3 separate regions of the Homo sapiens genome follow, and all the other regions are linked to region 3. Evidence: fine-mapped expression QTL. A gene starts in region 3. Each other region holds a variant in brackets. All regions are shown on one strand. Distances are between the middles of the regions.

Region 1 (9,811 bases), 100 kb before region 3:
CCTTAGGTTGCCTGCACTAACGCCACCTCCCAGGAGACTCTAAAGGGGCAAAGAAGTGGAGCCAGCTGGGCGGGCAAAGGTATTGTCTGCAAGGGAGGGTGAGAGTGGATAGAGCGCCCAGCGCGCCTTTGAAGCCTGGGGTGCGGATGCGTAGCTAGGCTAAGGGCCCGCAACAGTGTGCCTGGGACACGTGCTGCTTGCTGTTTTACAGCAGGGTCCCGGGCTCTCTTGCCTTCGCTTTGGCAGCTTCCAGGCGAACCAGGCCACGTGCGGATTCAGGTCATCGCCTCTGTTGTGTCTCCTACCGGTGACTTGGCATTTGCGCCGGCGACTGGCGGCCACCGGGAATTCCGTAAGGGCGCCGGGAGTGGAGGGCAAATTAACACAACTGCCCGCTAACCCCCCACCCCCACCCCCAGGCGGCAAAAGGGAGCGGGAAATGTGGAAAGCGTCAGAAAAGAAATCCATCAAGGCGAAAGCACCACACAAAGGCGCGCAGGCCTCGCGTTCCTCCCGCCCTGCCCTGGCCAGCTCCAACGCCGGTGCCTGGTTCATATGCTACCAGGGCTGGCGACTCTCCCGAGGCCCTCTTTGTTGTGTGGGTAATTGTATCCCTCCTGGGTGGCGGGAAGAGGGAGCTGCAAAGGAAATTGGAATGAGACCTGAGGACTTAACACGAGACCTCCTGCCCGGGAGCCAATGCCAGCGTCTAAAGGGGCTTTCCGGTAATAATCCCCACTTCATTGATGAGGATACTTATTTTCTCAAATATAAAGTGCCATAAAAGCGCATCAATAAGCACTCCCTGTAACCACACTATCCTTCTTAAGCCCTTTCTGTATACAAATTCTGGAAATTCATACAATTAATTACATCTCAGAAATAAATAAATGGGGGAGTGGGAACACTTACAGTCTGAAGCTGATAAGTTTTTTTAGGGGGGTGGGGTCAGGAGACACTTCTTCACTCCAACAAGGAAAAAGAAAAACAATTTTCTCATCTCAAGCCTTTACAGAGGTAGGAAATAAAATTAAAGATAGATTCTGGAAATGGGTTGAGGAGCCTGTCGCACTTAAGACAGGGAAGCATAAATCCTCCCCCCTCTTTTATCTGGTGTCTCTTTTCTTTCTCTCTTTTCGGGACATGTCACCTCCTGACAGATCTCTTGCCTGGGATAAGGAGAGAGGTGCTCTCTCCTCTCTATGATAAAGCTTCTTGCCCCCTCCCAGTTCCCCATCTCTTGCCACTCAGGATGCCGCCCGCTCCCCTATTTATTTATTTATTTATTTATTTCTCTGAGATGTAATTAATTGTATGAAATGTCAAGGCTCAGTCTCAGTTTTATGCACCTTTCCCGCCCCTGACTTCTCCCTAACTCGTCAATAGCTTGATGCAAATTTGGAGCAATTAGGGACCTTGAGTTTTCTAAAAGCTGCAATTAACGTCGAAATTTCCGCTGATTATAGACTTTGAACACAGCCCAGGGGGAAAGGAGGAGGTCAGATCTTGGCTCAACGAAAGCCGGGGACTGAAAACTCTTATTCCTGCTGGGGCTCCTAGCTCTTCATTCCGCCCCCTGCGCTGACCCCTGTCGTCCCACGGAGCAAAGAAACCACACACAACAGAATAAAAACAACACCCTGGCTGCGCGCCCCTCCTCCTCCGCGAAGCCCTCAACGATCGCCGCTGCTCGGACCTTGCGTGGTCCTCGCTTTCCGGTGCCCTGGGAGTCACCTAGCGTCCCTGACAGCCGAATGACCTCTGGCAGGGACGGGGTCAGAGCCCCATTTATTTCCCAGCCTCCATTATCTCCGCGCTCCCCCTTCCCTTTCCGCCAGCTCAGCCTCCCGACGTCCCAGCGCCCCCATCTTCCCTGCAGTTCATTTGATAGAAAATTGGGGCGGGACCTACTTGTGGGGCGCAGGTTAGTGGTATTGGGGTCCGCTCCCGCGTTCGAGGAGGTTGCGGACGAAGATGGGGTCGAAGACGCCATCAGCTCGGTCGTCCCGGGGCCTCTACTGTCCAGAGTCCTCGACTGGTCCGGCGCAGAAACAGGCTGCAAAGAGAAGCGAGAGCTGTGCGGGGAGGACTTCCGGGGTCCTGCACACCGGAGGGACTGAGCAGCCGGGGGCACGGAGGCTCCCCTTGAAGATCCGGCTCTGGAGAGACAAGAGGGAGGAAAGGCAGCGAGCCTGCCTGGTAGGGGTGCGCAGGGGTGGGGGCAGCGGAGGAGACGTGCGCGCTAGCTCCGGTACTGGGGCGCAGGGAGCGTAGCCCTGGGCCGCTCTCGAGTCTGGCGGTGCATCGGCGCGACCTGGAGTGAAGCGCCGAGACGAGGCGGGGTCGGGGTCGGGGTGGGGGTCCAAGGCCAGTACAAGACGCAAGGGTGTGGGGGACTAGGCTAGGAGCACAGGGGAGCGCTCAGTGAGCGATTTTCCAGCCGAGCCGCTACAAGCCCCATTGGGCACTCAGCAGCCGGCGTGTGGGCCAGCGGGGGGAGGGCGCACGGGGCGGGCATGTCTGGTTCGGTGTCTGGTTCCCGTTGTTGTGTCTGGCTAATTCCCTGGAAAGAAAGAGGCTAACTGCTCCGGGGACTAGGGACTTTGGTGAGACAAGGTGAGAGGGGGAAAAAGGCCCATATCTTTACGTTCTCCCTCGGACTTGGCCAGAGAAGAACCACAGTCACCTTGCACTCCAGACAGCCAGAAAGCAGCGAGTCGGAATGTTGCTTGCCTCCCTCTTATCCCAGCCGGTTTTTAGCCATCGCTAAGCCTAGGGCGAGGTTTCGGTCCGGTTTCAGCGTTTCTCCTCTACCTAGCCCCCTGAGGACCCCAGATTTCTCGCGGTACAGATCCAGAGAGGGTGGGGTAAGTAAGCATGGGGAACGTCACCGGGGAAACGAACTTGCGCGCAGCGCGCAGGAGGCGGCGGACAAAGATCTTGCGCGGCGCCCCTGCTCGACTCTCGGCGCTGGCGCGATGGCGCCCGAAGGCCCCGGGACAGAGAGATTGCGGGCTAATCTGGGTAGATCGAGGACCCCACAGAGAAGGGCCCACCGGCCATCGCCTCCACACCCTCCCTCCGACCTCACTCCTAGCCCCGCGCGCGCAGTCGCACAGCAACTCGGGCAGCGGGTCGACTACGGCCCCTGGAAAAGTAACAGGTTACCGTTCCTAGTAGCGCCTTCGGCTGCTGCTGCCCAGGCGCCCTTTGGAGGGACAGGCGCTCGCAGCATGGAAGCTCAAGGGAAAATCGCTCTTGCCCCACTTCAACTAGAGCCTCAGCCTCCGTGCTTCCCCGGGGCGTGAATCCGGAGGGCAGGGATAAGAAGAGTGACGAGGGAGGCGGGGGGGGGGGGGTCCCTGCGCAGCGCACCCGTGGAGAGCAGGGACTAGGGCGGGCAGGAAGCACTCATTTCGGGAGGTTGGGTGGCCGGCGCTGGGATGGGGTTGGTTGAGAAGCCGCGGGAGGAGAGGACCTGGCTGAAAAGCCACGGTTGGGCGCTGGGAAGTCCAGGTGGTCGCTAGCTTACCCACCTCGGCTCTGCGACAGCGAGCCGGGCACTCCCGCCTTTCCTCTGCACAGCGCCCAGCGATCCGCTCGGCTCGGCCCTGACAGGCGTAATCTGCCCGGCGTCACCTCCAGCTGCTTCCTCGTTCTCGCTAGTTCCCTCTCGCACGCGAGCGCCAGGAGAAGAGAGAGATTCGGAGAGGCGGCTGCACGGCTCCGGGGTAGGCGGGGGCAGAGTGGGGAGGCGGGGACCGGATCGGCGGGGAAATCACGAGGCCGTTGCTCGCGGGGGCAGCTAGTCGGCGGAGCGGCGGGGCTCCTCTGCAGGTGCCTGACCGCCTCTGGAGCTTTATAGGGCGATTATAAATCCAGCTCACGGTTTTGCGCCCGGAAGGAAAAAAAAAAGGTCTTATGAGTAATCCAGAACGTACTCAACACGCTTTTTTTTTTTCCTTTGGAAATAGGCAGGCTGTCGGGTGAGAGGAGGGAAAAGATAATTCCTACGAAGAATTCTGCCTTTCTGAGCGTTTCTTCTTCCCTCCCCTCCTTTCCCCTCTCCCATTTCCCCTCCCCCTCCCATATATTGTAGGAGACGAGCGGCGGTTTTGCCTCAGTGCTTTTCCCCGGGGTTCCCCCAGATCTGTGACCCTGCGACGCTTCCTTGAGCGAAAGCGCGCTTTGGGTCGTGTCCTCGTTGGCTCTCTACGGAGCTGGGATTGTTGTAACCGCAAAGGAGGCAGAAATGAGGGGAGACCTCTTAGACCATGGAGGAATTACAGTTTCCTCATCCAGCCCTGGGCCCCATCAAAGTACCACACCTGGCCACAGCTACCCAGTGCCACCGGCAGAGAAAAGGACCCCGCGTCCCTTTTGCTATGCGCTCGCTCCTCGCTTTGGCCCCCTTGGTGATGGGAAAAGAAGGCCTCCTGATTAATCACGTTTGAAGGTTGATGACACGCACGAGCGCCGCTGCACGCGCATGGGGCACCCGAGCACAGAGGTGCCCGGAAGGGGCGGACCAGCCCCCCTTGCCCTGGCCCGCTCCCCCTTCGATTTCACGCGCTTTAAGGATTCTCCCTTTGCAATATTTAGGCGTAGTTAAAAGAACCGCTGCGTTGGGAGAAGCCCCTCGCCGTAAAAATGCGTTGAAAGAGAAATTCCCACCAGAGGGCGCCAAGAGCCCAGAGACGGAGAGGCCCTGCGCTCCCGGGTCTCTCCGCCAGCGCCCGAGCGGAGCCCACACCTGGAGCTGCTGGCCAGACGGTTACGCGCCGGCTTGCCTCTTCATGCCTTCCCTCACCGCCCTGTCACTAGTTTAAGTTCTCCCCTTTCTTCTCCCCCAGTTTTTTTCTTTAGGGCAAAAATGTTGATGTCTGTGCGTGTCTGGGTGACACCGTGTAGGCAGTGATTCCTTTACTGGTATTTACCGTGGTCCTCCCCCTCTCCCCAGGTGGTGCAGCACGCAGGGGTTATTTATGCGCACGTCTGGGGCCTCACTGGTTCAGCGGAGGCCCGTCCGTTTTCTTTGAATGCCTTATCGCCTTTCACCACAACACAATGGAAACACACACAAAAATATTATAAATTACCGAGAGTTCCATAAGGGAGATCGAAGGGTCCGCCCTGGGCAGACATGGCCTGATCAGCAAGAGGGATCTCGCTGTGGGGTTTGAAATAATCGCGTTGCCTTTGGTACTAAAGAAACTACTGTTTTGTCGCCTTGTCTCCACCTGACGATGAAATCCCCGGCACTTTTTAAGGACACAAAAAACATCCTAAACGGCGGGGCGCGCGGTGACTGCAGCCCCGGGCACTGAGGCTTGGGGCTGGACAGGCTGGGGGTGTCTGCTCCACGTAGGAAACGTCCCCCCAAACCACTCAACCGGCAGCTGCTCTGCGCTGCTTGAAGTGGGCGGCATACAACCAGGTGAAGCTCGGAATTCCATCCACCGGCCCTCCTAGAGCCTTCCCTAAACGAGACGCTCGCACCAATCAGGGAGCCAGGTGCCAGTGCTAAATCATTCAAGACGCACGGGGCAGGAGACAGGAAGGAGGAGGCAACACATCTCCCGGTGCCCCTCGTTCTTCATTGTCCAGCATAGACGCCCGCTCGCCTCAACCTTTTCCCAAAACCCGTGATTCCCTGGAAAGGAAGATTCGTTTACTTCACCTGTGGCACGAGATTGAGACATTTCCAACCACTTCCTCCTTTGACCCCAGAGTTCAAAACACCCCTAACGTTTTAGCCAATGAAATAATCTCGTTGGAGAAGGAATCTCCTGCAAGGCTAGGTAACGCAAGCTGAAGCTGAGTCCGTCCAGCTTCGAGGACATCCCTCTCTTTCTCCTTTATGGTGAGTAGGGGAGGAATGAAGACTTTTGTCCGTCCTTGTTTAGAATGTTTAATTGAATATTAGCAGTAATTGATTAAACGAATATTTATTAATCCCCTACTATGTGCCAAGCACTTATTTTTTGGAGCTTGCATTGTCCCTGCGGTTTATATTATCCTGCACGCCGGGAGTGGACATTCCGGTGAGGCAGGGAGAGGAGCGCACTTAGAAACTTCATAAATTTGATTTAATTTTCAATGATCTCCTCCAACTCGAACTCTTGGGCACAGCAGGAATGGTAATGAATTGAAGGCCTGGAATTCCACTCCATCCAGATTACTGAGTTTT[G/C]AGGTAGGGCATAGATCTTTCAGCACGAAGGACAGCGCCCGTCCTTCTGGTCCCCATGCCTCTGTTTCGTTTGCTTCCGCCAATAGCTATGGGCCAACCCACCAGACTCGCCCCAGCCCTCCTCCCTCCTGACAGTAACTGCTGTTTGTTTTGCCTAGTTGGGGGGTGAGGTATTTCGCCCACTGCTCTTCTCTCCGGTAGGAATTTGAACTAAGAGTGGCCGTGGTTGTCATTCGGCTCTAAACAACATTTGAAACCTATATTTTTGTTTATGTCTTTCACTCTTCCTTTAATCTTTTATCATTCCTGGGGGAGGATTCTTGGGATAATGGGGGTGGAAAAAAGATATCCTCTCCGGGGACTCGAACCGGTGATGAGGGGTGGCCCGGAAGGGAGTGGTGTCCGCCCAGCTGTTTCGATTGTATTTGAAGCGCTTTGAAGAAATGGGAACGCGGCGCTCAAAGGCAGAAGAAGGAGGGGGCGATATGCGACCCCTCCAGTCTCTCTCCGGCATTAGGGATTTGCGAGCTTGCAGCCCCGGCTACTCCACCCTGTCTGCCGAGGATAACGTTTCCTTAGGTCAACCACCGCTGGGACTTGGGAACACGACCCTCCGCCCACAATGCCCTTTATTCCTTTCCCCGTCGTGGGTGGGTGGGGGATTGTTTAAAGATATTCCAACCGGATTTGGGGCCAAGCCTTTTCTGCAAAGGGAAAAACGGGTGAGTAGGAGGAGCGTGAGGCGTTGAAGGAGCGCCCAAACGGGCTGCGGGGAGATCTTCACGCCTAAAACGTGGTCAGTCAAGGTGAGTAGACAGGACACGTCAATTTTTTTTGACGCAATTAGAATTTTTAGCCTCCAGGAAACGTAATTTAGAGCCATGGTATTGGTTCGTTTCAGCTGGCTCCTTAAAATCTATTTTAAGTGTCTAATTTATGACCAGAAAGGAAAAAAAAAATGGCAGTGCTCACCGGTTAAACGTCTGTCTCCCGAGACGAGAACTGGGGGAAGCGTTACTTAACCTTTCATTCTGCTTAAGTCGGAGCTAAGGTCCATTTGCTGTTTTTGTACTTTAAAGATAGTTCCCTGAATTATTCTGGACTTTTTTGAAGGATCATAGCTAAATCCACACCCCCATCCCAACAGACCACACAACACTCACAGCTGGGAGGCAGGAAAATGTTAAAAGGGTGAGAGGGGGTGGGAGGGGTGACAGCAGAATGCTGGAAGGCTGGAGAGGACTCTAGGAATTACAGCCACTTTTTCTAAAGAAGAGAGCTGGATTCTTCGGATAACTGGCAAATGGTCCTTCCCCCTTGATAGTCAGAAGATGAAAATATTCTAATACAAATAAATGAATCAAGGAGGACAGGGTGATTTGTGTTTGGGCAAATCTCCTTGTGCAAATCTTGAAACGTCCAATTCTTGCTATTCTAAACTCGAAGACAGAATGACCACCAGGTGGCAATAGATTACAATTTCTGAGAAGAAACAACAGGCCTCCCAAGGGAGCAGTTCTTCAAGGAAGAATGCAGGCTCATACTCATCCCTGCCAAATTTCACAAAGCAGGGCCTTTTCAAATGGTCAGAAGTGCTCTGGAAGTGACCTGAAACACCTAGGGTAGTGCGTCTCTTTGGTGAAAGACTAGGGGGTGCATGGCATCTGTTTTTTTCCCACCTAGCTGTGTCTCAAATGTAGTGAACCTGTGAATATTAGGCAAGAAACTGATTCACTGCAAAACTGGAAACCAAGGAAATACAGTTCTGGATTGTAATTCTGATGGGGAGCTTTAAAGGTATATCTGTGTCTTCTGATCTCAACAAAAACCAAGGCGAAATCAGTCCTTCCCCAAAAGGGTGGGATGCAAAAAGGAGGATTTCCCACCTGAGATGCTTTAGTGAAATACAGAATTCATGGGAGACTGAGGAGAGTAATATTTTATTCATTTCTTTTAGTGTAAAAGCTCTTGGACTACTTAAAATAACAGATATTTAGTCCCCATTTTCAAACATAGGTATCTGGGACTGTTGTTTGTGAAAAGGTTCTGGAAAGTTCTGACTTAGTTGTGGCGAATCTAATAACTTAAACTTCTATTCCAGGCCAGGTTTCTTCCCCTAATCCTGACCAGTTACTCAGGGGAGGAAACTGGAACTTTAACAGAAGGGGTGCATGATTGATTGCCGTTCCCATTAGGCCCCACCTTCAACATTGGGGGTCACATTTCAGCACGAGATTAGAGAGGACAAACATCCAAACTATATCAAATATTGTGACAATAGCTGACGAATACACTCTCCTATACCAAGAAGGGCAACGGGGACTGTGTGCGGTGGTTCACGCCTGTAATCCCTGCACTTTAGGAGGCCGAGGCAGGCAGATCTCTTGAGGCCAGGAGTTCGAGACTAGCCTGGGCAACATGGAGAAACCCAATCTCTATTAAACATACAAAAATTAGCCAGTTATGGTGCTGCACGACCTGGAATCCCAGCTACTTGGGAGTCTGAGGCACGAGAATCATGTGAAGTCGGGAGGCAGAGGTTGCAGGGAGCCAAGATCGTGCCACTGCACTCCAGCCTGAGCAACAGAGTGAGACTCTTGCCTCAAAAAAAAAAAAAAAAAAAAAAAAAGCCAACGCAGGCGCAAGGTGGAACTCAGGGTAAAGTCTGACATAGGCTGCCCAGAATTGCTTACTGTGGGCCCAGTCTGGCCAACAGTGGTGGTGCTGGGGTCTGTGGGGGACATTAGAGAACTCTCTCTATATATCTCGGTCTCTCTTGCGGTCTCTCTCTCTTTAGCAACACGACTAATAATTATCCTCATAGAGGAAGGAAATAAGTCTCAGGGAAATTGTGTGGTGTGTTTATTGTATGAATTCTCAGTTAATTATCACCTGAGGTCTTCTGTTTTCTTGATGAGGAAACTTAAGTCCAGAGAGGCTACAGGACTTCCCAGACCACATGCTTAGTGCGCAGGGGGCTGGAAATGCTTTCTTCTTCTCTCAGTCCCAGCGCCTTATGCTTGTTCAGTGAAGCCTTCTGGCTCTGTCACATAATAATCATTTGACCTTGGAAAAATCACAGAATCTCTCCAGACCCCCATAATGGGAGGGTTTGGGTACAAGATAAGACCAGATGAGGTTTCATTCATCTGAAACAATTTATTATTACAGGTATTTTGTGATTCTTCTCACTGGCAACTCTTCTCATGTTGTAAATACCATGGACTCAAGAACCTCTTGAGGCCCTCAAGGCAGCTTTTACTGGGAGAAAAGCAAAAATGTTGAAGTCAGTCTGACTTGAGTTTACATCTAGATTCTACTTATCGGCTATTGTTTGACTGCTCCAAGTTTACTTCTAAGTAAAATGGGGGTTAATATCAGCCTTGTGGGCTATCTTATTTGATGCTCATAGAACCCATTTTAGGCCGGGCGTGGTGGCTCACGCCTGTAATTCCCAGCACTTTGGGAGGCTGAGGCAGGCAAATCACCTGAGGTCAGGAGTTCGAGATCAGCCTGGCCAACGTGGTGAAACCCCCGTCTCTACTAAAAATAAAAAAATTAGCCAGGCATTGTTGCGCACGCCTGTGATCCCAGCTACTCAGGAGGCTGAGGCAGAATTGC
Region 2 (9,811 bases), 340 kb after region 3:
TCACAATCTTATCACGTGATATGTTCAGAGACTTCAGAGACAGGGACAGGAAGTCCAGTCCAGGTCCCCAGGCTTTTCCTGCCACTGTAGAACTATTGGGATAAAGTGATCTCCATAGTTCAAGTCTACTTCCTGCCAGAGTGAGGAGTGTTACCAAATGGGCCCACCTAATACACATACTTGCTTTTCTTAAATGCCAAAGACAGCACTTCCAGAATAAACACCTCTGACTTCTGCTCAGTGTCAGGCACATAGTTCTCACTGGGGTATAGCCATAAGTGCCTTACTTCCCTTGAGGTCCCCTTGCTTTATCTACCAGCACCACCCCCAACTTTTGTGATAGTTTTTAACCTACGTAACACTTTCAGAGATTAATATAGTAAATACCAAATAATTGATCACTGTTTATGTTTTTTCTTATTCATGTGAAATCCCTTTGTGACCCTTGTCCCATCCCACTCCTCTCTCCTGAGGTGACCACTATTTGATGGGTTTCCTTCCAGTCTATTTTTAAATATTGGTCATATGCCTATAGATACCCATGAGCAATATACAGGTTCTGTATGTTTAGTTATAAAAATGATATCATACTTAGGTTTTATACTGTAAGCTTACTTTTTTCATTAAACATTATGATTTTTAAACTCTATTTATCTATCTATCTACCTATCTACCTTACCCACTTACCTACCTACCTAGTTCAGTCACTTTAATCACTGGGTAGTATTATACTTTATGAATATGTACCTATTTATTTACTCAGTCCGATGGGGGGGGTTGTTGTTTTTAAAATTTTATTTATTTATTTAGTAATTTTTAGAGATGGGGTCTTGCTCTGTCACCAGGCTGAAATGCAGTGGCATAGTCATAGCTCACTGCAGCCTCAAACTCTTGGGCTCAAGCAACCCTCCCCACTCAGCCTCTCAACTAGCTGGTACTAGAAGTATGCACTATTGTGCCTGGCTAATTTTTTAAAATTATTTTTTGTAGAGATGGAGTTTTGCTTTGTTGTCCAGGCTAATCTCAAACTTCTGGCTTCAAGTGATCCTGCCACCTTGGCCTCTCAAAGTGCTGGGATTACAGGCATATGCCACTGCACCCGGCCTACTCAGTCCTATGTTGATCAACATTTAGGCTGATTCCAATTTTTTTGCTACTAGTAATAATGCAACACTTAAAACTTTATACACATCTTTTTGTGTATATATGTGAGTTTTTCTCCTGGAGGGCACTGTTCACTAAGGATTTAAAAATCTTGTTTGATAATCAGTAATAATCCCCTCTGGTATACTAAAATATAGCTCTTTAAGGTTTAAAATTAATTCAAGGTCAAAGTAGGCCTTCCCGTAATTCCTTTCATAAACTCATCACTCCTCAATGCGGTTTAGGAGGAAAGCATTGGCTAGAAGAGCTCTGGACCCTAGTTTCAGAGTTGCGAGCAATGTGGTATGAGACACTCAGCAAATCCCTTAACAGCCAGTATATCGGTTTTCTTCATCTATAAATAGAATTACTCATAACTGATCTGTCTATCTCCCAGGTAGCTGTGAAAGCACATATAGTCATGGATATAAAAATGCAATAAAGTTGAAAACATGTACTAATTATTATTCTTACATCCTTGTTAACATTTGGAATCAACAATTTGCATAACTACACACATTACTCTGAATATCATTGACTAAACAAAATCATACATAAACTGTCCTACATACTGTAAATTCACTAGCCCAGAAGCATAACTTCTTGATTCTTCTCTGTCACTTTTGTGCCCATCAACATCACAGCTTATGAGGATATCACCCACCAATACAATTCTATCTAGCTAGATCCTAGAAGCTGGTGTTGACTGAAAGTTTTATGGTAAGTACCAGCTAGAAGTCATGGAATCTTGATGTACACCCCACCCTTTGGTATGCATTTCACAAAAGTAGGTAAAAAGGAAGAAGCAAACTTATCAGCTCTGCATATTGAGTCTTGAGTTTATAATGCAATATTAATGGCCAAATAAAATGGATTTCTCTCTTTCTAGCCTATTAAGTTAAATCTTACCTTTCAATCTCCATCACTGATAAATTTGAAAAGAGATATTTGAAGCATGCTATTAGTCATCTCCAGTCCTAGAACCAGTTTTGCTGCTAATTCATATAAAGGTCCAAAGTAGAATGAAGCTTAATTTTTATTTAATCAAATCAAATTTATAACCTAAGCAGTTTAAAATTATTAAACAGAATTATTTATCTGTGACTTTACATATTGGTGATGGCAAAGAAAAATCAAATTGGTTTGTAATACAGATTTTTACTAAAACTCAGAGCTGCTGCCTGCCTCTAGCTAGCCATTTTGTTAAATAAAACAGCAGGAGGATACATATTTCCGATCAAAATCCCCTTCACATAAAACCTAAGAATAATTTTGCTTGAAGTTAATCAAAAAACAAAATACTGGCTGGGTACAGTGGTTCACGCCTGTAATCCCAGCACTTTGGGCGGCCAAGGCGGGTGGATCACAAGGTCAAGAGATTAAGACCATCCTGGCCAACATGGTGAAATCCCGTCTCTACCAAAAATACAAAAATTAGCTAGGCGTGGTGGTGCACGCCTGTAGCCCCAGCTACTCAGGAGGCTGAGGCAGGAGAATTGCTTGAACCCGGGAGGCAGAGGTTGCAGTGAGCCGAGATCAAGCCACTGCATGCCAACCTGGCAACAGAGCAAGATTCCGTCTCAAAAAAAAAAAAAAAAAAATTGTACCACATTTTCATGAAATAATTAAATTACCATATTAAATTCAGCTAGTTTGTCTCCTTCCTACATTTATATCTTATAATTGCATATTCTGCACATCATTTGACAAAGAAAATCAATAATTAAAAAATTACCTCAGATCTGGTTCTGGTCAAGATGGAGTAAGCCCTCTCCACTCCTCACTGAAGACAACTAAATACCCTTGTCAGAATGCATGGAGCAGCTATCTTAAGACTCTGAGAAGTAAATTGTAACAGGCAGACTGGGGAAGGAAGTCAGAACTCAAAATACCACTGAACCAATGGTGAGTTTTCCAGGCTTTTTTTTCCTTCAGTAACTCCTGACCTGGATTTAATGGCAGCCTGAGCTGCATACAGAAATGCCAAGCTTCACATTGGATGACATTTTTATAGCCAACTAAAAATGGAAGCATGGACCAAACCTTACTTGCAATCTCACAAATAGATGCAGTCTAGTAGAAAGTTTTAATTTTCAGTGTGAATATACACAATGCAATATCACTAGGATCAACATTGGTATCTTCTGAGCCTGAAGGAGATTGTGTGCTATGCCAATCTGTCTCACAGATATAACTTCCAAGAATCATGCAGATGTTGTCTGCAAATCTGAGCTTGATTCTTGTAAAAAATCTTCCCCAATAATATTGTATTAACAAAAAATAACTTTTTAAAAATTTTAACTGCTATTAGTAGCAATGTGTGGCCTCTTTCCATGCTTACAGGTGATCAAATTCTTTAGAAATATTTGCTCCTAAAAGTGAAGTAGGCAATCTAGAAGTGGATGTAGATGCAAGACTTCTCTACTCTGATAAAGACCACTTCGTTTTCTCAACCAGAAAAAATATATATATGTGTAGCACTATTTCTGCCTTCCACAACTAGTGTTCTTTGGAAACTGCTGCCCGCTTAACTTTCCTCCTCTGGCTATGGGGTTTGGAGGGTCTATCGTAGAGAAAAAGCATTATTTATTTCAATTTTTATCTCCTTTAAAAACATTTTCCTAGACTTTGCATAAGCTTATAAAAAGCGTTACGTTGTTTTATATTTCTCTATTTTTAGTTGAAATTAATAAAAATAAACTTGGTTTATTTTTTTAATTTTATTGAGTTAAGTGATTTGTGTCATTAGTAACTATAGATCTTAATTTCCTTTAAATTCACATGCTCCATCTAGTGCCCTACTTGAGAATAGGACCTATTATCAATTTTTGCTGAAGAATTCCTCGTTTAATGTGAAAATTACAGATCTCCAACTAAAAGCTACTTGGATCGAGTATTCCAAAGCTCAGAGGAATGGAGACATAGATAAATGAATGGATAAACAGCAAAAAACATTCTACTAAATCAAAAGTATGTGGTAAGGCACTGTAGTTTTAATGGCTCAGAAGACGTTTTCAAATTCCAGTAAAGTTTATATTGCTTTTCTTAGATTTCCTACTTGTTTTTATGA[G/C]TTTGTAAGTATGTTGGCTGCCAAGGCTGGCTTCTCAGACAAACAGAGTTTGCGAGTTGGAGCTTAGAGGGAAAGTCTTGGCTTGGACTGGTTCCTGGAGTTTGCTTTTGGTGTGGCAGTGGAGCGGGAGACTGTGGAGAGCAGGACGGGCCTTAGGTTTCAGGGATCAGGTAAAGGGGAAACTGGTGCCTGAATCCATGGATCAAGTAGGGTGGGAATGAGGGCAAGTCTGTACCATCAAGTCCAAGGAAATGAGTGCAGCGTAAGAATAGAATCTGAAGAACGGGAAAGACAGAGCCAGAGGTAGAGGCTGGGAGTTCCCCTAAGACAACAGTGGGCATAGATGAGGTAGAGGATGGGGGTCTTTGTTCAAATCTTTGGCCCAGCCAATGAGTGGGAAAGGAGCTTTAGAGGACACCAAACTGGTTTAAACACTAGAAGAATTATTCTCATGAAATAAACTCCTAAAGTGTTGCAGCTTTCACTCTAGTTTAATCTCTGTATCTGCATTATGGTTAAAACCATTTCTGTGTCATTGTTCTCTAATATCTCATCACTGGGCCTGCTAGCTTCTTTGTTTGAGCTGCTAGTCCTATGAACTATATTGACAAACATATTTTGCCCAAAAGTGACTCATTAATCAATTAGCCTCTTTCTGTCTGCCAGTTATGCCTATGGAAGTGGAGGCTTCCATGTAGGTAGGTACAAACAGAGCTGCAAGAACTTCACGTAGGTGAGACAGGATACGCTCTTCCTTTCACTCCCCAACTATGATGAAGAACAAGTAATAGAAAAAGGTGCTCTAAATCATAACTCAAACATGAGAAGGAAACAAATTCTTCTAGCTTATCAATTCAGCCTAATAATAATAACAACAAGCAATATACTCCTAAGAAGTTAATCTCTGCACTGAGAAATGCCTGCTGGCTTCTTAGAGAGTCACCCTGTGTCAGCACCATTGTGAAGGTCACCTCTGCCTCTGCTCCTCCACACCCAGGATAAGAACCCTCTCCTCCGTCCAAGAGTGGAACTGCAAAAAGTGGAGAATGACTATCACTGTTACCAGATTCCAGATGGAAAAGGAAGTAAAATTTGTTGCGGATAGAGGCAAAAAAAAAAATAGAGAGAGGGAATAAGGAAAAAGGTGCAGGCTCAAAGATGTCAGTCCTCAAGAATCTAGGACAAAAGCCTCCATGGCCATAGAGAGAACTCAGGGATCACTCCCTTATCACTACATTCAATGGATTCCATACAAGAAAGAAAACATTACTCAAAACTGAGAATAGAGTACTGTTACTACACCAAGGTCAGTGATGTTGAATATTTCTTCTAAATCTTAATTTCCATTCAATATACCCTTTGATAACAGAGCCAATGAAAGAGGGACTTTTATTTTACCGTAACTATATAATAATGGACCTCAAACGAGAAAAACAATAGCAGACCTTTGAGGAATGACATTATTCTACTGAGAGTCAAATATGGACAGAGATAGCAGCTGGATACCTTTAACTACATGAGCTGTATCTTGACCCTGAACTTAAGGCTATGTCTTTCAAACAATACAATGCATAAATTTTAAAATAGGAGAATTGTTTGGGTGGAAATTATTATAGTATCTGCCCATTTTTCATCTAAGCACCGTTTTGGCCAGAATCCCAATAAATCAGCATCTTATCATTAATCATATTAAACAGTATTTGATATACCCAACTTCTCTAAGCGGCAAGAATCAGTAACACCAGCATAAAATTAATATTAACTAACTTACTCATTTGTAGATAGACAGATATAGGTATAGATAGATAGCAGATACTAATTATAGCAAGGTATAGATTTATTTCTTCTGTTAGGAAGATAAAAGGATATTTAACCTCCTGTGTGTTAAGCTTCTTCAGCACTTTATGAAGTAATCTTTCTGGAGTTACTTATTTACATAAGAACCCAATAACCCATTAGTGTATATAATATGGGGTGCTCTGTGTGTGTGTGTGTGTGTGTGTGCATGCATGCACATATTTGAAGGTAGAAGAGGGAGAGAGTGAGCAAGGATTACTGGGGAAAACTAGCAGTTAAATAGTGAGAAATCTGTTTTTAAAGGTCATTGCTGCAGGTTGAAAAGAAATCAAAAGCTGAAGTCATTGTTTTAATCAGCCTCAGGCAAATTGCAAGGGCGACATGACAACCCATTAAACAGAGCAGAAAAAAAAAAAACCCAGCAACTTAATTCTTCTACCAAGTAATACTTAGAACAGACCCTTGGCATTTAGGGTTTAACATCTGTGGTTTCAGCTAGTACCAAGCCACCTGCAGGGGCACGGCATGCTGGATCTTGTAATTTTACTGAGGTTCACGGTTGAGTTCATGGTCGTGGCAGAGACAATCGAGTCCTTTCCCTGCCTCCACTCACATTCCAGAGAGTGGTTTCACTCTTCTCCCAATAACCCTTGTAAAATGATACAAAGCATGTTTTCAATCTACTTCTCTGAACTTTAACAGTGAGATGACATACCAGATGATACTAATGAATTCAGGGATTTGCAAAACTGGTTTGGGGAAGAAGTCGTCTTTTTGCAGATCAAGGAAATAGGTGCTGATATAAAGGAAATGACCAAATAGTTTAAAAACACCTCCAACAGATGAAGTAACAATGTACTTTCAGCCCATTGTTCACATAGTTTTAGGGCTTCTTTAGCCCTTTAGGGCTTACTCCTTTAAAAGAGTAAGACTTGGATTAATAACTGCTCTATTGTACCTGAATCAAATACATGCATTGGCACAATTATAATTTACTGGAAAAACTTAAATTCCAATGATGTCATACATACACTATAATCAGCATCAGGTAATGGTATCTATCAAATCTCAAATAGTACAATATCACTTCTCCACAGGTGCCTCTGCTGTCCTGTATCTATATCTGTAGTGTGTGTGTGTGTGTGTGTGTGTGTGTGTGTGTGTGTGTGTATGTATGCATATATATATATAGAGAGAGTGAAATAGGGATGAATCACATCCTGGCTTTCCAAAAAGCACTCAGAAAAGCCTGAATGGTTAGACCCAGGAGAGGTGAGACAGGGGACTTACAAATTCAAGCCCTCCAAGCACAGTACAGCTTCTGCTCTATGTGAACAAGCCCTCCATGATTCTTAGCCTTGTTTTTGAATACTCTTGAATATGTGCCATAACTGAGATGGATCTGATCTAAGAGTTCCTCAACCTGTCAACACTTAAAAAACATTTCTTTCTATTCCACCGAAGTTGCCCACAAGCTCAGCTATCCTTAGTTCCTAATTATCTATCAAAAGTTCCTAGGATCTCAGTTCTACAATCCCTTTTCTCATCATCCCCTCACTGAATCTGCTCTTCATCTTTGTTGTAATAGCCAGTCCCAGGACTAGATCAGCCTCAAAGTCAATAAGCCAGTCTGGTGTCACTTTCTTCCCTACCCACAAAGATCCCAAGGCCACTCTTCTACTAACCTCGATTCCCTTGCTTCCTTGCCCACTCATCATGTCCACTGAAGTCAGTCTCTAGCCTGAAGAAGACCATAATGTCTGCTTTCTCTACTCCTAACTCCTTGCTGCTAAGAGTTAATTGAGATGACAGATGAGAAAGGCGGCAGTGGTGATGGTGCATTTTCTGAGAGTTTCTAGTGCCAAGTGTCCTGAATGCTCTACATGCATTATCTTAGACACTGATTAACTTCACTACAATAGGATGCTATTCAGTTGCATTCTACCTGGGTTTTCTATGCTATTAAGCAATCATGATGTCGATCTTTAACTGACCCTTTATCATATTCCTCATAGTGAATATCTCAAAGATTTAACGATTCCCTGGAGTCCACAATCCACTCCCAACTCTGAAACCTTGCTAAGTTTTTTTTTTTTTTTTAAAGGCCATTCAACATGAATTTCCTCACAATGCCTCCTCTCCTAAGTTTTCTGAGTACTTTTATCTAACCTTTCTGTGTCTTTCCCAACTTAGAGTTTCTCTCTTTCTAAAGTCAACCTCCCTTTTAGGCCCCTGACCCACTCCCTCTTGCTTCCTCCATTGCTTCCTCTCTCTTCTGTCTTCGTTGTCTCCCTCTCTATATATATCCTTCCCCTTTACCTGTCCAAGTGTTCCCCCATCCTTTAAGAACTTGCATTCTTCCCTGCATCCTGCTCAAACTACCAACTTCTCTCTCCCCTGGGAAAAGTACTAAAGTGGACTGAACGTTCCTTACCTTTGCAGGAATGGTAAGAAAGTTTTCCCTGTAGATTATAGGTTTCATTACTCTGTATCAGCTCTCAAATCCAAAAAGAGTTGCTACAGCTGGAGGGCCCAGGACTGCCTAGACCATTGAAGAACTCTCTTTTGGGCAGAAAGCTGGAAGCTTTGTGTAATATCTGGAAGTACTTGGCATTGCATTTGATAGACTATGAAGACGTGTCTTGCAATTTCTACATGATTGCATTGTGAACCAGGCCAGGGAGGCAGCCCAGTTTGGGTAGGCCCCAACACACTTCTCTGTTTCCCTAATCTCCCTCAATCAATCCATCACTAAGTCCTGACAATATCATTATTTTAATATCTTCTGCCATTTGTAATTACTATGATCTGCTCACTAGTTCCCTGGCTGCAGCCTTACCCTGCTTCATTCTCCATACTGCAATCAGAACAACTTTCTGGAACTCTTCAATGGCTCCCTAGCACCTAAGAAACAAATTCAAGCTCCTTAGGCCCATGGTGACGTGGCTCCTGTCTACCTTGTCTCTCCCTCCCACCTACCCCATGCCAAGCTCCAGCCATGTCAACTAATTGTTCACCAGATTCCCCAAGCTCTCTCTAGCCCTTGTGCCTTGCCCTTTGCTCATTGCTCTTTCTTTCCCCTCTACCCCGAATAACCCCCTTTCCTTGACTATCTTTGATTTGTTCTTCAGGGCAGTTCAAGGATCATCTACCCAGCAGCTCCAGGGCATCTTCCCCTACCATCCCAACCCCAGACTGACTTAGGTGTCTTTACCAGGTGCTCTGAGAGGTATCCCAGGCATTCCTTTATCTAGGTACTTTTCATTTTGAACTGTTCTCACCTGATTCTTGTCTCTATCACACACCAGACTATTAGCTCTTTATCAGGAACTGCATCTGATTTGCCTTTGTAGTCCCTCTGTTCAGCATAGGGCCTGACACATACACATGTATAAATGCCTCTTGAATGAATAAATTAGATATTGAATAAGAGATAAAATGGGATATTTTAAACATTCAGTACCTCAGTAGTGTTTATTTTCATGATCTTGTACAGTAAGTAAAAAGATGAATTTGCACAGATTATGGGCAAGAGGTAGTTAGTGTTAAAAAGAAATGAAAGACTCAGAATTAAATAGACCTTGTACACTACTTCTACTACTAACATTTATGGAGGTTGCATTATTCTAAGCATTTTACATGTATTGACTCACTTAACCCTCAAAATAACCCCCGTTTTATAGAAGAAACTTTGGAAGAGAAAGATTAAAAACTTATCCAGTTAGTGGCTGGCCTGAGATCCAAACCTGGCAGAGCAATAGATTTTTTTCTTTGTTGTTGTTGTTTTTTTTTTTTTTTTTT
Region 3 (9,811 bases):
AAATGGCCATTTTTCTTTCTCTACCAAGGTCATTCTTTCAGATGAAAGAATCATTTCAAATTTTGAGTCCAAAGCCTTTGAAAATTTTCACTCTCTAACAAGGATTCCTCTTTCTCACCACTTTCCAAAAATCCTTTTCTGAATCTATAGTTGATCCCAGGGCATGGTTCAGATGGGAGTTTCTGTAACTTTTTAGAGAAAGGTGAGAGTTTCTATAACTTTTCACATTGCTTTAGACATCAAAATGTGTAGTCTTGATCTAATGACTTAGATCTAATGATTTTGATTAAGATTACATATTTAAGTGTATATTAATATTACTGCCTAGCAACTTTATCACTATTGCTTGCAAACTGCCACACCCTTGAAAATGTAACCCAAACTCCTCTTCCCAGGTGAAGAACCATGAAGACTCACATTCTAATTAGTCATTAAATAGTTCCAATATCTCTTATTCTAAGGTATATTGCCACTATGAATCTAATATTCATTTACTACCTTGTCCCAAGTTACAGAATAAAAATGCCATTTCTTAGGAGTATAAAAGTAATTTTCATCTGAATTATGTTGATATTTGTGTTTTACTTCGTATAAGAATTCAAGAACAACCCTCAAAGCTTTTAAGAACTGATCCTTCAGTTTGACTTCAAACAAAAGGCAAAGTAAAAGCAGTTTGTGAACTGTGAAATCCTATCAATTTGTACACACTTCAACTATCATGAAAAGATTATTCGGCTCTATTAAAATTTGGCATTAATGATGCTAGCTTAACATGTTAATAAAATTTAGAACATTTTCTGTTCTTTGCTAATCTTAAATCAAGATTTAACTGCTGATAAAAGTTTCAGTTACAGGTTTAAAAACTCAAATATTAGAAAATATCAAGGAGTTAGACACTTGATAAAACATTTGTAAACTTCAAAACTTCAACTTTTAGAGAAAGGCGAGGCACCTAGACAAAAAATACCCTATTTCCACATTTCCAAACCATGAGTATTCCTGGCTCTTCCCTGAGAAAATCTTAGACTACTTCAATGATTAAAAACATAATAAAATTCAGATACAAAATGGAACTAAACGTCCTGGCCTAGCCAGAAATTCCTGGGTGGTTACTGTGAAATAAGACTTGTTAAGATTTCCATCGCAAGATTAAAAAGAAAACAAGCAAAACAACGCTGGCTATCGTGACGGGACTGAAATACAGGAGTGGCGTCTGGGAAACTATCTTCTTGGTTCTTTCCCAGGCAAAGACCAACCTGAACAAGGGTCCCGTTTCTCTGTACCTCTCCACAAAGTCTCACCTGTGAACAGATCCTGGCGCCTCTAATACCTCTCTTAACACCAGCATAGTTGTGACCTGTCCCGAGAGTACCAACAAATAGAAAGCCACAGGGAATTCGTCAGGTAAAAACAAACTTGGAAGACAAACAGTCTCGGGTGAATCCTAAGGCCGCATGAGAAACTCAAATTGTGATTGGAAAATCTTGCCCTACCTCTTTACCACAAAACGGAATTGCCTGCCTTTGTCCATTCCTGAACCCAACACATTTGCCCAGATCCTTCCAAACCAAAGAAGCCTCCGACACAGGCAGACTATAGGAACCATCAAATTCCCGGGGAAACCCGACCGCTTAGTACAGCCACCCAGAAGAAGAAAAGATCAAATGAGACCGGCTCAACGGGGTCTTCCTGTAGTGACCCCTGAGTTAAAGTATTTATTTTCACGCTGCAACTGCTGATCACTTTACAGAGACATATCATGCTGTAGCTCTGCATGGAGCTGAAGACAAAAGCAACATTTTTATTAATGTTATAATTATTATAATTATCTTTAACAAAGCTATTAAATAACCTGTACAAAGCCCAAACCGGTCCTAGCGAAAACCCGAGCACTGTTTCAAATCTCCCAAGTTCCTTTCTATTCAGTTCAGCAGCATTTCCTATATACAAGGCCAGACCAGGGTGGTCCCCCGAAACTGTAGGTCTCCCTGACGGTGGGAACGGTTTAGAGTTTGGAACCGCCCTGGCGTACGGCAGAGCTCCCAATTACAATCCAAATGCCCCAGCCCCAACCCTACCTCCCCGCTCCTGGGAACTGGGTCCCTATGTCCGAAGGCAGCGGAAGTTGGAAGCCTGGCTCCATTTTGGGAGGCAGGCAACGGAGAGGGTCCGTCTGCTGAGTCTCCCCTCCGCCAGCTGCCCACAGGTCCCCGGATCTCTCGCAGAGGTGCTGGGAAGGGGGTCCACCTCCGGGAGGGCTCACAGGTCCCGCGCGTCCTCCCGCTTAACCCCGGCCTCAGCGACTTTGAGCTTCTTATTCTGGTGAGTCTTGACGTGCTTCGCGAGGTGGTCGCTGCGCATGAAGCGCTTGCCGCACTCGGGACAGGCAAAGCGCTTCTCGCCCGTGTGAGTCCGCAGGTGCCGCTGCAGCTCGTCCGAGCGCGTGAAGCTCTTCCCGCAGAAGAGCCAGTTGCACACGAAGGGTCGCTCGCCCGTGTGCCAGCGCAGGTGCGCCTTCAGGTGCGACGTCTTCCCGTACACCTTGCCGCAGCCCGGCACGTGGCACACGTGCTGCTTCTTCTTCCCCGGCTCCGCCTCGGGGGCGCCGCCCGCCGCCTGGCAGTTGGGACAGCGGCAGCGGCGGCACCTCCTGGCCGTGGCCGCCAGGGGGGCCTTGGTCTGCAGCAGCGCGGCGATCTGGCTCTGGTACTGCGCAAAGTCCGACGGGCCCAACACCAGGCCTCTTTGTAGGGCGGCGGCGGCCGCAGCAGCAGCGGCCGCAGAGGCGGGGAAGCGGGGCGCGTGGGGGGCCCCGGCACAGGCGCCGGAGAGGCCGCTTCCCGGAACCCCGGAGGCCCCCGGCCCGGCGCCCGCCTGCGGGATGCTCCACCACGGGAGGTCGTCGGGGGCCGGGTTGGGTGACAACTGGCGGCAGGTGGGCGGCGGGGGCGGTGGCGGCGGCGGAGGCAGCAGGTTGGAGTAGCCTGGCGGCAGCGCGGCCTGCGCCGCGTAGGGCACGTAGGCGGGCGCGCAGCTGGCGGGCAGAGCCGCCATGCTCGAGGGCAGCATCTTGACCGGCGAGAACTCGTAGGGGTACGAGGGGTCGGCGGGGGGTGTAAGGGGAAGCTCGTGCGCAGCCCCGAAGGACGGCTGCAGGTGCGTCTTCTGCGGCGTCAGCCCCAAGCTGGGATGCGGGGGCGGCAGTGCGCCTGGCGAGTGCGCCGGCATGTCGGCGGTCCACGGGTGGAAGAGCCTGGAGGGTGAGCCCAGCGCGGGGTCGTAGGGCACCTGCAGGAAGTCCGGGGGCGCCGCCGCGCCCGGCTGGCCGATGCGGCTACAGGTGGCGGCCAGCAATGCCAGGGGCGAGTGCTTGCCCAGGTCCGGGGAGGCGCTGGGGGTGCGGTCCTGCATAGGCGGCGAGGGAGGGCGGAGAAGAGACAAAAGGTTAGCTCCAAGCGCGGACTCCGGGCCAGCCCGCCGCCCCCACGCCCGCTATTATACCGCCGCCCCTCCTCCGTCCCGGCCGTCCCTCCCCCGCCACCGCACCCCACGCACGCACCCACCGGCCGAGGGAAACTTTTGGTGCCTGCGCTACCTGAACGTGGGGCCCGCGAGCGCTTCTTGCTAAACTACTTGGTGCACTGAGACGCCATCCAGCCTTAGAGGAAGCAGGCGCGAAGTGGGAGGGGGAGGCATCCGACGGGCCCCTCCCGGCTCCGTGGTCAGTAAGAGTCGGGAAACACCCACAACCCCGCCGGCCGGCCGCTCTCCCTCCCATCTTTTAAGCTCTCTTGTCCTCACTGCCTTCGCGCTCCTCCCTGGCCCGCCCCAGGCTGAAATCAGCAGGAGGGCCCAGCAGGGTGAGCTCCGGTCCTGTTCTCGGCCAGCCGGGCACCTCCGAACAATCCCGGATCCACGCGTCCCTCCAGCAAAGGCCACACCGGATTAGGTGTGAAGTTGGCGTGGGCACCCCTAGGCCTGGCTCCAGCTGCACCCATCGGCGGGGTTCCCTTTGAGGTTCAAGGTGCACGGAGTACCAGGAGAGATCCGGACACGGCCCTTTCCACCTTTCTCCCGCCCCCTCCGGGCTCGGCCCTGACCTGGAGAAAGGCCTGCAGCGAGTCGTTCCGGAGGACGGCCACCGCGGCCATGGCTACGGCTTGCAGGCCCCTGGCTGCGGAGCGGGACGCCGCCGCCGAGGCATGGACACCCGAAGGCGAGGACGAAGGGCCGCCCAGCCTGCCTCCCTGGCGCCTGCTCTGAGCGCCGGGGCCCTCCCCGCCCTTGCCCCTCGCCGCGCCCCGCTCGCTCGCCCCGCGCGCGGTCTGAGCGCTTCAGGATCACCTCCAAGAATTTGATAAGGACTTTGCTGGGCCGCCAGCCAGTCAGAGGGAAGATTTATGGCTTTGAAGTTTGCCGCTACCCAATCATCAAAGAATAGCGGCTCTTTCAGAAGCGAAAGCAAATCCTTTGAATCCACAAAGCTCCTATGGTGTGTTTGTTGGTCTGGATAAAAGAACTGATTATTAGGGGGGATGGGAAGGGAGGAGATAAAGGCGGGACAATTAATGAAGTAATCACTATGTGGGAAATGTATATACACAAATAATTGGATTTTCCTGATCAAAGGGGGCCTTGCCGCCTGGAGACCCGCGCTTGGGTTGCTCGAGACACTCTTCCCGCCCCCCCCAACATACACACACACACACACACACACACTTGCAATTAAAGATTTGCACCGACGCAGCGCCCAAAGTGACAAAGTGTCTTTGTTATCTCTGGAAAAATCTGCCTTCGGCTTCCAGGCGCCGGACTTTGAGACGGCAAAGAGTGTAACTCTCCCCTGTATTTACTTGCACACCCTGCACCCTCGCCGCACACGCACCCGCCCGCGCACACAGCGGACCCAAGCGAGATCCCCGGTGGGGCGTGGGACCGACAGCGCCCGGCCCGCCGCGTGTCCCCCGCCCGCCGCGGTGGGGCCGAGGGCAGGGCTGTGACCTGGGGCGGGGCCGGGCGGCCGCCCAGCGCGGCGTTGGGTGGCGCGCACGCTCCAGGGCCGCCCGCCTGACGAGCGACCGGGGCTCTCCTGTGACGTTCCTGCTGGCGACCTGGAAGTTTTCCTCAGGCCACAACTTTTGCAGAGTGGACCTGGGAAAAACACCCGCGCCGCGCATACCCTCAAAGCTGAGCTCGGCAGGACACCCAAGGCGACCCGTCATGCCCACCCGAGGGGAAGAAGCTGTGCTGTCCCGCCCCCTTCTCCCCAGGCCACCCAGGAGGCCCGGGCTGGGCTGTGGGGGGCCGAAAGCCCCAGCGCTGCTGGTGATTTCTCGCCCGGAGCCCCGCCAAGCCAGCGCGCCCTCTCGCAAGCCTGGCAGACCAGGAGCTACTGGAAAAAAGGCGCGGTCGAGGAAGCCTGGTTGTTGTGGTCCCACAAACCACAAATCATACGAGAGAGGATCCCGAAGGCGGGAGAAAAGTCAGTACAGACTTGTTCCTGCCACCTTTGGAAAGAAAAAGTTCCTCACCAGGCGCGGGGCGTGCTTTGCTCTGGGCAGGGTCGCGCTTGCAGGGGCTTGGGTGACCCCCATCCCTCCCTGGCGGCTCACCTCCTGCCGAGGAGGGCCACCTGCCTCCTCCTGGCCCAGGGCGCAGGGCGCGTCCTGCCCCGGCACTGCGGACGCGGGGATCGCCTCTCCCGGGCGCGCGGGCGGGGAAGGAGGAAGAGGCGGGCGGGGAACCGCGGGGTGCTCACCGCCCTGGGGCATTAGGGGTGCGGAACCGCGTTGGAGGCCTCGCGGCCCCGGCTCGCGAGAGCGCACTGCGGAGTGGCCGCCGGAGCTCGGCCTACTCCTCTCCCCCACCCACCTCCCGTCGGACACAGTCTCCACTCTCCAGGCCGCCGGCCGTGGGGGAGCCCCTAATCAGTTCGCGCCCGGCCTCTCTGCCCGTCTTCCTCACGGGAACCGCACTGCGACCGGGACGGACGGGGTGACCTATCTCCCGATGCAGCGTCAGAGGTTAGCCTAACTACAACGGACTCGGAATCTGGACTGTATAAGGATGCCCTCCGCACTTCCATCAGGGGTCGGGGATGCGATGCCTCCGGGCCCACCTTCTCCCACGCCCAGGGCGCGCCTGCGGAATGAGAATATCGTACTCAAGACGGGTGGGCTGCTTGCGACCCAAATACAATGGGTCCCTCGCACATCCTGCACTCGCACGCCCCCTTCTCCCCCAACGAGTTGTCCCCTCTAAAACGCGAGCGGCGACCACACAACTTGGCCGACCCGATCTGGCTTCTGAAGATGAGGTCGGCTGCTCTGGGAGCGGAGAAGGGGAGAGAGCTTAGTGGTTTCATCCGAGGCCTGGCCAACCTGCTCCTTCCCACGCTCCCGTCCAGGATTTGAGTCTTGGAGAAGCGTGAGACTCGAGGGAGCTCTTCCCTGGATGCAAGTCGGAGGCCAGGGAGCCCCTTGGCACACACTCGCGCCTGCACATGCTTGCACCCTCGAAGCGATCTGGTTCCTTAGCGCTGGTTTCCTTTCCAGCTTCTTTGAGATCTTCGAAGTCCCCTTTCCCAGGGAGGCGGGCAGGGCCGGGCTAAGCAGGATGGAAGGCAGCCCTTTTTATTGAATCTGATAGCTACTTTCCCAAAAAGGCCAGAAAAGCCATTTCACATCCCCATAGTTATGGGAATTAGCTTTTTCTCCAAGATGCCCCCATTAGCCAGTTAAACCATCAGTGGGCCAACAGGGTCAAAGTTAGTGGCTTGGTGGTTGAAAGCTCGGAGTCCGAACTCTCTGAAGACATTTTTCCCGCCTTGCCACTTTCTAGTTGGTGACCTTGGCAAGCAAGGTACTCAGCCGCTGTGTACCTCAGTTTTGCGGTTTGTAAAATGGGAGTTACAATAGTGCACCCCTTGTAGAGTGGCTATAGGTTTAAGAGTTAATATACGCAAGGTCTTTAGGACGGTGCTGAGCGTACAGAAGGCCCTCTCTTGAGTGGTCGCAGTTGGCTGCTCTCGGCCTCATCTCCGTTTGTGAAAACCCGTCCAGATTCCGGTCCTCCCAGGCCCCAGCTGAAGTTTGGAGAGAGGCTTTGCTGAATAGCTGTTTAGTCTCCCCCAACCCCCTTGGCCCTCGGAGCTCCTGGAAAAAGTTCTTAATGAAGTAATGTTGAGAGCGTCCATTAAAAATGCAATGCTGGGAGATCAAAGTACAATATTTATTTTAGAAATTTGTTGTAATCACCAAGAGATACAGGTATCAAGGCCAAATGTCAGTTCCATTACACAAAGCCCCGCGCCCGGGAAGAGCGTGTGGCTGCTCTGCCATAATGTAAAGAGACATCAAAGACCGAGCGCGCTGCAAAAGTGCGCAGCTGTGGGGGAGAGAGTAAGCCCGGGAGGGCCAGGCGCGCCCCAGACAGCGCGGGGGCTGCGGGGGCGGGGGTCAGTTCAAAGAGGTATCCGTTGGGGCGCGAGTTCACAGGAGGGAAGATTTAATGGGCTTTCTTTTGTTGGTGGGTGTGTTTGCGCACGGTGGACCCAGGAACTCCTATGTGGTCCTCCTGCCTCGGGGCGGAGATGGGGGTGGGGTGGGAGCTGCGAATGTGGAGCAAACTTTAACCGTGGCGGGGGGCGGGGAGGTTGAATACCAGTCTCCTGGCGGCGGCTGGCACAGCGGAGCTGCTCTCCAAGCAGCGGGGTTCCCAGGCTGGGAAGTTTGCATTGCCGTTTCTTTGCGGGCGGGCGGCGAGCGCCGACTGCATGCCACCTGCGAGAGGAAGAGGCCGGTAGGTGAACCCGCAGTGACACTTGCGCAGGGGACGGACCAGCTCTGCGCGCTCTGGGATTAAGTCAGGGGTTGCTACTTCCAGCCCAAGCTTGGTACCTCGCCTCGGGCATTTTCTTGCAGCTAGAAGGGACGCATGCCTCTGGCATAAATCCAACCAGAGAGTCACCCCTCTCAAGCTAGATTTTTTAAAAATCTAGATATTATTTAGATCATTTCAGCAAATTCTTAATGCTTTGGCCTTTCACAGTAAGATGTTGCTTAATCGGCTGGATCTCCCCACTCCTTGCCAAGGAGACTCAATTTTGCAGTTGCCCATATCTGCCTAGTTAAATCGTTGCTATACTAAAGGTTCTGGGAGGGTGGGGACAGAATTTCCCCGGTGCTAATGCGGCACTGAATCGCAGGAGGCTGCCCATGCATTTCTTCAGTCATCTACAACCAAGAATTCTCAGAGCAGTCCCTCGGCAGCCTTTTGAAGCTGTGCTAGAGCAGAAAGCTGCTATTGTTCTCATCTCTCAACAAGGAAAGGTTCAAACTTTGCCTCTTCAATTTGAAAGATTTTTTTTTTATGGTGGTGGGGGGAGGGATTGCAATCTGATACTCAAAGTTAACTTTGAGGATTTGGAGTGGTCTCCCAGTTTAAGCTGCAGATCAAATCACAGATGCCCTAACGCCTGCATCTCAAGTCGGGGGCACTTCATCATTAATACGGTGGAGTAGTCAATCACAAGCAATTACAACGTGGGTAACCTAGCCTGGTGACCGAGCTAGTTTACTTTCCAAGGAAGTGGGACCATTTCCTCAACTGGAATCCTTGAATTAATTTTAAACTTAAACTTCCAAATTGGATCAGTATACAATACTGGTTGTAGAACTAGGAGGAATTTTTAAAAATCTCATCTAATTCTCCCTCATTTGGTGGGAGGAGGAAACAGCATTTGTATGATATGTATCCTGCCTGCACAATGCTGTGAGCTTCAGTAGATGCTCAATAAATGCTCATTGATGTTGGGTGGTAGAGTGGAATTGTGTGTACCAATGTCATCAGCGTATGACTGGTGCCACAGAGCACACAAATGTAGTAGGAAGTCAGAGAGGATTGGTGAGGACTGGGGTGGTCAAAGGAGGCTTTATCAAGGAGCTGGGGTTTGGAGGAGACTTTAAGGACCTACAGAATTTTAACTTTAGTTAATTTTAGTGCAAAGAAAGGAAGAAGGTGAAGGGGAAAGGGACAGTAGAAGAAAGAGAATTCCACTTCAGTGAAAAGTTGAACAACGATGAAGTTTTGGGTCTTTGATCTGTTGGTGTGGACATGGTGGGGCCAGATTAGAGAAGTCAGAACACGGAGTTTGCCCCCATGCTGTATACATTATAGTAGGAACTTCTTCTGAGCAGGTAAATAACGTGAGTTCAATTCCATGTCTGAAAGCTTCTTCCCTAGAAGGATTGGCTTGCAGAGTCTGGAAGGATAGATGCAAATGCAGTTACCTAGGTGTGGGATGGTGAAAGTTTTGATTGGGAACTGGTGGTAGTAGTGAAAGGATGACTCAGCATTTTAAAGGGGAAAAAGAGCAAAATTTGGTGACAGGTTGGAATAAGACATTAAATAAAGGGGACACTCAAAAGGACTTCTCTTTTGAGCAAATGGTGCTGGGGCAACTGCATATCTACATGTAAAACAATGAAATTGGACCCTTTCCTTACAACACACACACAAATTAACTCCAATCATAGATTTAAATGTAAGAGTTAAACTCTGAAGCACTTAGAAGAAAACAAAGGAGGCTGGGTGTGGTGGCTCACACCTGTAATCCCAGCACTTTGGGAGGCCGAATCACAAGGTCAGGAGTTCGAGACCAGCCTGGCCAACATGGTGAAACTCTGTCTCTACTAAAAATACAAAAAATTAGCTGGGCATAGTGGCGGATGCCTGTAATCCCAGCTACTCAGGAGGCTGAGGCAGGAGAATCGCTTGAACCTGGGAGGCGGAGGTTGCTGTAAGCCAAGAT

Direction of the effects. Positions count from the first base shown, and alleles are read on the strand shown. Sizes are in standard deviations (SD) of each study's normalised expression. Not every link is listed here.
With allele G in place of C in region 2, the expression in tibial artery of the gene that starts at base 4,327 in region 3 is lower (moderate effect, 0.63 SD a copy in GTEx).

What was found. PIP is the estimated chance that this variant, and not a neighbour inherited with it, causes the effect.
Region 1: its variant is fine-mapped to the expression of SP5 in tibial artery (GTEx, PIP above 0.99).
Region 2: its variant is fine-mapped to the expression of SP5 in tibial artery (GTEx, PIP above 0.99). The same link has a PIP of 0.9 or more in coronary artery.

The regions. Positions count from the first base shown.
Region 1 is chr2:170,810,774-170,820,584 of GRCh38, reverse strand. GAD1 (glutamate decarboxylase 1) reads right to left here and starts at 3,698. Exons shown (of 17, transcript NM_000817.3): 1 at 3,537-3,698; 2 at 1,912-2,056. The coding sequence starts at 1,993. GAD1-AS1 (GAD1 antisense RNA 1) reads left to right here and starts at 1,934. Exons shown (of 4, transcript NR_197761.1): 1 at 1,934-2,199; 2 at 2,670-2,867; 3 at 3,553-3,731; 4 at 4,100-5,962. RefSeq lists enhancers at 1,261-1,783, 1,784-2,307, 3,547-3,716 and a silencer at 3,804-3,883. The variant G/C (reference allele first, on the strand shown) is at 6,191.
Region 2 is chr2:170,372,128-170,381,938 of GRCh38, reverse strand. All of the region lies in intron 9 of MYO3B (myosin IIIB), which reads right to left. Among named protein-coding and RNA genes, the nearest start is that of MYO3B-AS1, 26 kb to the right of the region's middle. The variant G/C (reference allele first, on the strand shown) is at 4,214.
Region 3 is chr2:170,709,853-170,719,663 of GRCh38, reverse strand. SP5 (Sp5 transcription factor) reads right to left here and starts at 4,327. Exons shown (of 2, transcript NM_001003845.3): 1 at 4,101-4,327; 2 at 1,586-3,405. The coding sequence starts at 4,151. The coding sequence ends at 2,260. The region is part of intron 5 of ERICH2-DT (ERICH2 divergent transcript); the gene reads left to right. LINC01124 (long intergenic non-protein coding RNA 1124) reads left to right here and starts at 5,097. Exons shown (of 1, transcript NR_027433.1): 1 at 5,097-7,225. It overlaps LOC100130256 (a long non-coding RNA gene), which reads left to right and starts at 7,657. Exons shown (of 10, transcript NR_187629.1): 1 at 7,657-7,800. RefSeq lists enhancers at 2,376-3,165, 3,166-3,953, 3,954-4,743 and a silencer at 4,961-5,010.